Linked DNA regions of Homo sapiens. The protein of the gene in region 1 purifies or fractionates together with the protein of each later gene. This does not show direct contact. Each region holds a gene or a part of one and is shown on either strand. Other genes may lie near its edges.

Region 1 (3,500 bases):
GTGGCTCATGCCTATAAATCCAGTACTTCTGGAGGTCAAGGTAGGCAGATTGCTTGAGCCCAGGAGTTCGAGACCAGTCTGTGCAAAATGGCAAACCCCTGTCTTTACAAAAATTAGCTGGCTGTAGTGGCGTGCGCCTCTAGTCCCAGCTACACAGGAGAGAGGTGGAGGTGGGAGGATAGCTTGATCCTGGGAGGTCGAGGTTGTGGTGCACAGTACACTCCAGCCTAGTCCCCAGAGGGGAGACTCTGTCTCAATTAAAAAAAAAGAAAAAGAAAGAAAAAGGAGACTGAGACAGAACTAACTCTGTGTTAACTCCGCAATAATGAGAAAATTAGAGTAGATCTTGAAAACAAGAGTTTGTGAAGATTTTTAAACAATCTCTGAATTATAATGTTTAAGATGTTTTACAACTCAATTTTTTTAGAAGACATGAAACAACACAATAATGATTTGAATGCCTGGCCTCTCCTCTTAACCTCTGCCTACGTCTACTATCACTCTGTCAAACTGCAACTCATATCTTTCAGTGATGGAATATATTTGTTAAACCTGAAAGGTTATTGTATACATTTTTCTCTCATTCACACTTTCCTTTGGACTAAAAATAAAAATGAGTTCCTGTGGATGCCAACAAAATACCAATTTAAGTCAAATAAATGTTATGGCACTAAATACATTACAAGATTTGACTTATGTAATTAAAAATAAAGTTAATTTACAGAGATAAAGTATCCACAGATAATTGAGAAATGATGATTAAATTAAAAAATCTGTAATGCAAATTGCTTTTTAAAGGAAATATGAAAGTTATGTTCTTATAAAGAAATTTATTTGCGTTTATTTTATTTTTATTTTTTGAGACAGAGTTCAGCTTTGTGGCCCAGGCTGGAGTGCAGTGGCACCATCTTGGCTCACTGCAACCTCCACCTCCTAGGTTCAAGCAATTCTCGTGCCTCAGCCACCTGAGCAGTTGGGATTACAGGTGCACGCCACCATGCTCGGCTAATTTTCGTATTTTTAGTAGACACACAGGGTTTTGCCATGTTGGCCATGCTGGTCTCAAATTCCTGGCCTCAAGTGATCCACCCATCTCAGCCTCCCAAAGTGCTGGCATTACAGGTATGAGCCACTGTGCCTGGCCTATTTGTGTTTATTTTCAATCTGATATTCAGTACTTGAAGATCCAGTAATGCAAAAGCATGAACACTAAATATGCTGCTGATCATTGTATTTTCTAACGCTTCATTTTTCCTTTCACCTTAAAATTTTCTTCACCATATTCTCCCTTCGCATTAATAAACTCACCAGTAACTATTAAACTAACCAGTCATTACTAAAATTTGGTATTGATTGGACATCACAATCTCAGAACATTTGAAGCTACATGATTTCCCTCATTCTCCTTGTATGTCCTAAGGTGAAGGTAAAACTAATATCATTTTCTCTATTTAAACCTTATTATTGATAAAATAATATGTGTGGCCTCTTTTTTAAGATTCACAAAAAATATTTTTCCAAAAATAATTTATGATCTAAGATATTCTAAAACCTAAATTAACAATAATAAGAAAGCTTTTATTAGAAAAAAAATACTAGACCAAGTCTTTAGTAGTGTACTGCATTAGTTCTGTTATCTTCTGAGGAAAACGGAGTGGTAAGCCTCAACAAGGATATATGTTATTATTTAGTAGTTGATCTAAGCAAAAGTAACTTAGAAATGGAGATCTGTGTGATCAAGAATAAAGTGGGAGTTTAGGTACTTTGAATACTGTTGTCATGAATCAAGTTCTAGTATTGAAATTTAGAAACTATTAATTGAAGTCCACCTGACAATGAAAAAGTAGTACCTCTCTAATATCCAACAATAACAGTTTTTTTAATTGAATAACTACCATAAGGTAGTCACTGTGCTAGATGTTTAGACAGCATCTGATTTAATCCTCACAAAAACTCAGAGAGATAAATATCATTAATTTTAAATGTGAGGAAGCAAGCCCACAGAGATTAAGTAATTTGCCCACCATCACAGAACTTGTAAATGGACATCAATTCTGACATGCATTCTATTCTGTTTCTTTACGGACATCACTACGCTAAATTTAAGGGAAATAAGTCTTAAGTGACGACATGAAACTTGAGTACCTTTCCTATTTTCTTTACTCTTATACCCTCCCCATCCTCTGTAATAACATTTGATTTGCTCTCTCTGTGAAAAAATCTCCTGGATTTAAGGGAGTTGTTTGTTTTAGGCTGTTCTTGTAGTTTTCCTTAAATAGCACATAGCCACTTACAAACTATGGCCCAAAGGGGCATTTTCCATTCTTTTTCTATTCATTGATAGACTAGCAATTTTGGAAACTTTAAACAGATTGAATTATACGTTTAGGTGTCATGGCAAGTAAAACTTAACTCCTTAAGTATGAAAGCTGTAGAAATGAAAATACAATGAGAGGATTAGATGTATGGCTTAATAATTAATTTAAAAAAAATCAAGTTGACAGGTATCAATGATTCCATTTGATATATGTATTTCAAAATAAATTGGATATTTACATGTTTTGTAGACTTTAACTCATTACTCTTATGTATAGGTGACTATAATAATTATTCTTTGACACTATACAGTAAAATGTTATTGACTGTATGAACATGTAAATTTAATTTGGAAAGAATTTATTGATTTTACTCTTAGATTTAATGTACATTATATAGCTAAACACTCATATATGTATATTTTCAAATTGTTCATGGAAACAAGATTCTCAATAGTAATTGGATGGACTTGATTAAAAGAGAATAGATGTTAAAATATTTTATTTAAATTTTTAAATTTAGAACATATTAATTGTATATTTCCTGTTTATTCATTGATTAATGTACTATTTCCAAATGTTCATTATTTTGTTTGATTTTTGTGGCTTTTAGGGAAAAGTTGGCATCTAAAAATTCATTTTATATTGTGTCTCTTCCAGACTCATGGCATAACAGTTTGGAAGTGCTCATTCATCCTTTTATATGTGCACTGCTTTAAAGTAAAGTAAATAAATGTTCTTTTAGTATAAAGTGAGGAAATTACCTTTCCCTTTAGAAGTAGAATATTCAACAATTGGTGGCATATTTTTCTTTTCTTGGAATGATTAACAAAGGTATATTTTTGGAAAATTTATTCCATTTTAGAACCAAAGCCAATGGGCTCATATCTCTACTTATTGAACACAACAAAAATGTATTCATGTCAAGCATCTGGCTCCGGGTGTGTCATCATTCATGAATGGAAGAAGAATATGTGATGACCATATGTGATCATCAAACCTCAGCCCTCTGGCACTGGTATATCACTTTTATACTTGGCAAAACCTTGTCTGACAACATTCCCAAACAGCTTGCAGCAGTTAATCAACTCTAGTCAGCTATTACAGCTGATCCTTTCTGCAGATGGAAGATGGTAGGTTTGCGTTTCCAGCTCTTTTACATATCTCCCTGAGCTCTCCAGTCTC
Region 2 (3,500 bases), on another chromosome or scaffold:
TGCAAACCACTAGTGAAAGGGAGCAAACCCATTGAAATGACTAAATCTGCATTTTGGCTTACAAATAAAAAATGTTTGTTTGCAGGAAAGAATTAAATCACCAGAACCTGGATAAGTTCAAAGTTCCTTCATCTTCTTCATATTAATAAAGGCCACACCATCCATCCAGTAGCTGAAGACAAGGAATCATTCTAACGTCTCACTCCATCCCGCCAATCGAATCCACTGCAATGTGTGGTCTGCTTTACCTCTGAAATATATCCCAAAATCATACACTTCTCTTCAGATCCACAGTTCAAGCTACTATCATCTTCACTGGGCTACTGCATTAGAGCCTAATTGGGCTCAAATGTTCTATTCATGTCCCTCCTCCATCCTCATACCCCTCCATTCTCTGTATAAGAACTGAATTCTCTTATTAAAATGTAAATAACTTCCGTCTCTCCCTGGCTTAAAATTATCCATCTGTTTCCTTCTGCACTTGGAAAAAACTTCAAGTTCTTTACTACGGCTTAGGAACTATTCCATAATCAGACCCTTGCCTACTATCAGCCCACTCTCTTCCTTAATCATCATGCTTCAGCCATCGGCTCTTCCATTCCTTGAACATGCCAAAACACCAAACTTGTTGTTACTTTAGGGCTTTATTCAACTGCTCTCTTTGTCTGCAATGCTTCCCTCTCAGACGGTCACACATTTGGCTGCTCCCAGTGCCACCCTCCCCTAAGTCTCTGTTGAGAGGCCACCTCTCCAGAGAGGCTTTCCTGACCAGCCAATCTAAAGCAGTCCTCTCCACCTGTCTTAGTCAGGTTGCTATAACAAAATAACAGACTCAGTAATTTATAAATAATAGAAATTTATTTTGCACAGCTCTAGGGGCTGGAAATTCCAAGATCAAGGCACCAGCAGATTTCGCGTCTGGTAAGGGGCTTGTTCTTTGCTTCAATATGGTGCCTTCTTTCTGCATCCTCACTTTGTGGAAGGGGAGTAGAAGGGCCCAACAGGTTCCCTCAAGTCTTTTATTGGTATACTTTATAAGGATACTAATTCTTCTAATCACCTTCTAAAGGCTCCACCTCTTAATACTACACATTGAGGATTAAGTTCAACATGAATTTTGGAGGAAAACATTCAAACCATAGCACCATCCTTCCAACCCAACCCATCCTTCATGTTAACATTTTGTCCTAATTCTCCAATGAGAGAACAGAAACCCTGTCTTGTTCACCACTGTATCCCTCAGGGCCTCAAACAATGTCTAGTGGGTGGAAGAAATGTAAATATTACTTGAATAAATGTGAGAAAAAAATTTCTGTAACTTATAAGGCCAATTATTGGCTCTCATGGGGGAGAAAAAGATGCTATTCATTCAACAGCTATTTAATGAAGGAAGATTGTGCAAAACCTGTGACAGTGGTCCTCAAGCCTCAGCATGTGCATATGAATTACCTAGGAAATTTACACATGAGACCTAAGAAACTGCACTGTGACAAGCAGTCCATAAAAGGCGATTTTCTTATGGAATCAATACTAGCATTCTGCAGTATGTGCCATAGGTCCTAATACTATAAACACTTGCTATGGTCTGAATGTGTCCCTCCAAAATTCATGTTGAAATAATCCCCATTGTGTTGGTATTAAGAGGTGCGTCCTTTTGGGATGTGATTAAGTCATAAGGGTTCCAACCTCATGAATGGATTAGTGTCCTAATAAAAGAGGTTGAAGGGAGCTGCCCTGCCCCTGCTGCCATGTAGGGACACAAATGGTGCCATCTGTAAGGAAGAGGCCCTCACCAGACACTAAAATTGCTGGCACCTTGATCTTGGACTTCTCAGCCTCCAGAATTATGAGCAATAAATTTCTATTATTTATAAGTTATCCAGTCTAAGGTATTTTGTTATAGCAGCTCCAACACACTAAGATAGAATTTTTGTATCATAATGTTATTATTGCAATTCTCTTCTGCTGCTACATTTGTCCTTCACCTTAGCCAAGCCTCTCAGAACCAGTTATTTGCTTCACATACCTAGTACATCTCAAATGTTAGCTAAAATTCCATTCCTGTGGGTAGTTATATCTACATTTAAGCTTTCACAAATAGTTAAGATTTACTGCTGAAATAAACACACGAATACACTATACTCTCTGAGAGCTTTTCCTGTTTTTACCAAATCTTAACTGCTTTCCTCCTCAATTATTCTTGATTTATGAGTCCTGCTGAGAAGTGACACTACACTTGAGCGTGAATTATCTTCCCAGCCACAGGACAAGTGAAGTTAGCTTGATTAACAGACTTTGGCTACTATTATTTGGTTGTGTCCAACAAGAAACCTTTAATACTACATAGACCCTGTACGGAATAGCACTTCTTTCCCAAATCATCAGGGGTCAGCTTCATGTGCTTTTGTGGTAGGGCACACAGTTTGGTTGTAAAGTAATCAATTTTTATTTATTTATATTCTTAAAATGGAATAATGTAATACAGGCTTACTGAAAAAAAAAGCAAATATTACAAAATTGCATTACATATAAATTAAAATTCCCTAATAATCATACCTCTCAAAGTTACTTACTGCTTATACTTTGGTGTATATCCTTCAAATTTGTATGTATAAACATATTTTCACATAGCCTTAAAAGAAATCATCACTGTTGTATAACCTGATTAATTAATTTGACATTATATTACAGGCAGCTTCCCAGGTCAATACCTACGATTCATCTTTTTAAAAAAATTTTTTAAATTATTTATTTATTTATTGAGACAGAGTCTCATTCTGTCACCCAGGCTGGAGTGCAGTGGCGTGATCTCGGCTCTCTGCAACCTCCGCCTCCTAGGTTCAAGCAATTCTCGTGCCTCAGCCTTCTAAGTAGCTGGGACTATAGGTGTGCACCGCCATACCTGGCTAATTTTTGTATTTTTAGTAGAGATGGGGTTTCACCATGTTGGCCAGGCTGGTCTTGAATTCCTGGTCTTGAGTGGTCTGCCCACCTTGGCCTCCCAAAGTGCTGGGATTATAGGCATGAGCCACTGCACCCGGCCAAGATTTACCTTTAACAACTGCATTGTATACTACATAAATATAACAACAAAATTTAAGTAATACTCTGGGAAGAACACATTTTTCTCTCCTACTATACCCTCCCAATAGGTCTGACACCAGATGAGAGTGTTTTCCACACTAAACAATTCTCCAATGGACACCAACGGAGTGTCCTATAATTCAATTCAGTTCTGTCACTATCTCCAGGTAGACAGTGTCTGATCCCACAGGTTAAGAGTTTAGTCTCATAAGCCTGGCCCCACTTCAGACACTAATCACAAGTCCCAGGTTGTGACCTATGATTCCGACTGAATGGTTAGCACAGGGTTCTTACCACCCTCTCTGTGGGTTCAATAATTTGCTAGAATGGCTCACAGAACTCTGGGAAACACTTTACTTACACTTAGTAGTTTATTACAAAGGACATTATGAATGATATAGAACAGCCAGGTGAAG
Region 3 (3,500 bases), on another chromosome or scaffold:
TGGACTGGGTGTAAATTCTTTCCCAGTGGCCTGTCTCCTGGTTAAAGGCCACCCCCACAGTCCTCTCCTCCTGCGGACTAGCAGAGCTGCTCAACTCCAGCCTGCTGGAGCTGGGCGTTTGGCCCTCAGTCCGCTCGAGAGGTGGCAACTGGCTGCCACTTGATGGCACACTCTCAAAGGAGCTGGGGACCTGCCAAGAGGAACTAGCCTCGCCAGAGGAGTAGTTAGGTGTGGTTCTTTCCCAGCGCAGGGTATCGTTGTTGAAGGTCAGGAGATTGTGGCAAGCACGACAGCGATTCAGGTGGCCACGGGACAGGTTGGAGTTGTTCTCACTGCTGTGTGGGGTGGGCTGGTGGGAAGGGCCTGGCCTCTCAGATTCAATGTTATTGTTGAGCATTTCCTGGGCCTGTTGGGTCTGGGGAGCTTCCCCACTCAGGCTCTGATCCAGCTCCTGAAGCCGGTCATACTCCAGAAAGAAGCGTCTCAGGTCACACTGAAGCTCATGGCGAATGCTGCCCGAGTTGTTTTGGCTGGAGCCATTCCCTCCATCTGACTCAGTTGCCAACCCTGATGCCGGAAAACCCCTCCCTTCTGTGGCTGAAGTGTACACAGATGCCTGAGAGCCACCTTCCTGCTGTCTCAGCACAGACAGCAAACTCACCGAAGAGGCACTGGTTCTGGGCGGGGGCATGGATTCCGCCTCAGAGCGGGAGTTCAGACTGAGTACTGTCCGGGTCCACTCAGATCCTGTCAACCCAGGAGCTATTTCTCGGTGATACCTAGAAGGGTGGCTAGACAGAGGCCCTCCCAAAGAGCGGCGGGTAGGACCCAGACTGAGGTTGCGGAGCGTGTTGCCGGCAGTGCTGCTCTGGACTGTACTGAAGGCAGACGGCCGGTTCAGGAGGCCCTGGTCCTGCTGCGTTGACGAGGCCTGCTCCGGGGGATGGAAGGGCTCGGTCTGTACAAAAGAAAAGGAAGGGGTAGTAGCTCTGGCAGAAGCAGGGGGGACACTGTCCTGGTGTGGCAAGAGGGAAGGAACTCGAGTGCCAGAGCAGCGGCTGCAAAGGCACAGGATCCCAAGGTGCTGGCAGCACTCAGCTGTGGGGTAACTGACCCGCTGTCGGAGCCTGATGTAAGCGGAAGTCCTGGGGCGCTCCGTGGAGGGCTGAGGGGGAGGCGGTGGGGGTGAGGGGGTAGCAGAATCTTGCACTGTGCTTTGCTCTCCCACCTGGATGCCAGAAGAGCGGGAGGACAGCATGTGCAGGAAATTGTGGAGGAGAGGCGTCCGGCGAACTGGCTGTGATTGCAGGAGGGCACGCTGACGGTAGTGGGATAATTCTGTTCCATCTATGGGGATCTCTGGTTCGTCATCACCCTGCAACGTGGACCAGCATGGGGCAGGGGGTAGAGCAAGGCAGTTAGGTAGAACCTCCAAGTAAATCAAGAAAAACTAACCACTGACAATCATCCAAGGAAAACAATGTTCATAGGTAGGAAACAACTCTCTACCCCTGAAGCACTGACAACTGGCCTCAGATTCAAAATAATCACATGGTATTAAATTTTCCACTCCCAATTAGCAGCATATCTGAATGAGTGCAGCTGACAAACCAATTGTCTTACAAAAGACATCTCCCCATGACATGGAAGCAGTGAGGGGAAGCAAAATGTCAACCAGCCAGAGGCACATGAGTGACAAGCTATCCAACACTGTCTAGTGATGATAAGGGTTACTTCTAATGAGGCAATCACTGGAGGGTTTCAGAATCGACTCTCCTGTCAAGATTATGGCTATAACCCTGAATATACAGTCTGAAGCTAGCTTTAAATCTTGACTGGAAAGATAAGACTTGGGTATTGAGAATTAAAATCCAATATAATCAGAATTGGAATACTAGTTAAGAAAAGAACTCACAGTTTAGCTGGAATTGGAACTGCTGGACTAACTTACCTGTTGATTAGAGGGGTTAACAATTGCTGTGAGTAAGTAGTGTCCAAGTGGATCAAATCTCACCAGACTAAAATCACAGAAGAAAGAGACAAAGACACACATAGAGAGATTATGTTAACTGAGAAGAGGAAACTTGTGTTTGAATTTATAGCAATCATTACTGATAACTGGTATCACTCAGGTATCCACTTCATTCAAGACTTCCAAAACTTTCAAAGAGATTAAAATAGTAACACTCAATACTTCTTGCCAGAGTAAAGGAATATGTATCACAAAAATAACGATTTCACATGAAAAACACCTAGAGTTGCCATCCCAGGAAACAGCTACCTTAAGCACACCTTTGCTCAAATACAAGAGTTCATCCTAACCGTAAAGCATAAAATGCTCTCATACTCTGCCACAGAATCAGTTCTTCCCTCATATGGCAGCTACACCGGCAAGAAGCATGAATCTTGGTGGCAATGAACAGTCCCAGCATTAAGTGACATAGCTGAAACCAGAAAATTGGCCTGTATTCGACTGGAAATCCAAGAGGACCAAAGAAACACAATGCATCAACTTTAATACAGACAATATGTTTTGATCTTGAGGACTAAATAAATGTCAATTATGTGCTTACATCTCCATCTTCCAGTTTGATAAACACAGACAACCCACCAAGGTATCTAAAATACCACCCAAACTTCTTTCAGGTTTTCCCAAAGAAGTACTATCCAAAACAGTTAGCTTTGAAACTAAAAGAGAGTCTAATGACCCTGATCTCCAAAAACCAGAAGATGAGGCCAATAAGGGAAAGCTGAAATGAACAAAATGAATGTCTCCCAGCTGATTAGTCAGCTGCTTAGAAAGCAGGAGGCGGCCAGGTGCAGTGGCTCATACCTATAATCCCAATACTTTGGGAGGCTAAAGCAGGAGGATCACTGAAGGCCAGTAGTTCGAGACTAGCCTGGGTAACACAGTGAGGCCCCGCCCCCCAAATCTCTACGAAAAAATTTAAAAATTAGCTGAGAGAGGCTGCACACACCTGTAGTCCCAGATACTCATAAGACTGAGGTGGGAGGATTGCTTGGGCCCATGAGGTCAAGGCTGCAGTAACTTGGGCCCATGAGGTCATGACTGCACAACTGTACTCCAGCCTGGGTAACAGAGCAAGACCCTGTCTCCTTAAAAAAAAAAAAAAAGCCGGGGGGGGGGGGGTGGTGGTGGGCATGGTGGCTCATGCCTGTAATCACAGCACTTTGGGAGGCTGAGGTGGGCGGATCACTTAAGGCCAGGAGTTCAAGACCATCCTGGACAACATGGTGAAACCCTATCTTTATTAAAAATACAAAAAAATGAGCCGGGCATGGTGGTGGGTGCCTGCAATCCCAGCTACTCTGGAGGCTGAGGCACGAGAATCGCTTGAACCTAGGAGGCAGAGGTCGCAGTGAGACAAGACTGCGCCACTGCACTCCACCCTGGGTGACAGAGTGACACCCTGTCTCAAAAAAAAAATAGGAGGAGCTATGAGGATGACAACTTGCCCTGAGCAGGGATAACAACCTGA

Evidence for each region. The genes of interacting proteins can lie anywhere in the genome.
Region 2: the proteins of PLSCR5 (region 1) and TTC1 purify together in Homo sapiens (affinity purification with mass spectrometry; one large-scale study listed by BioGRID and IntAct). This does not show direct contact.
Region 3: the proteins of PLSCR5 (region 1) and AMBRA1 purify together in Homo sapiens (affinity purification with mass spectrometry; one large-scale study listed by BioGRID and IntAct). This does not show direct contact.

The regions. Positions count from the first base shown.
Region 1 is NC_000003.12:146,595,347-146,598,846, forward strand, and holds part of PLSCR5 (phospholipid scramblase family member 5), read right to left. Parts: intron 1-3,500.
Region 2 is NC_000005.10:160,015,639-160,019,138, reverse strand, and holds part of TTC1 (tetratricopeptide repeat protein 1), read right to left. Parts: exon of another isoform or gene 108-3,500; intron 1-107.
Region 3 is NC_000011.10:46,542,024-46,545,523, forward strand, and holds part of AMBRA1 (activating molecule in BECN1-regulated autophagy protein 1), read right to left. Parts: intron 2,019-3,500; coding exon 1,952-2,018; intron 1,376-1,951; coding exon 1-1,375. UniProt on the Homo sapiens protein: Substrate-recognition component of a DCX (DDB1-CUL4-X-box) E3 ubiquitin-protein ligase complex involved in cell cycle control and autophagy.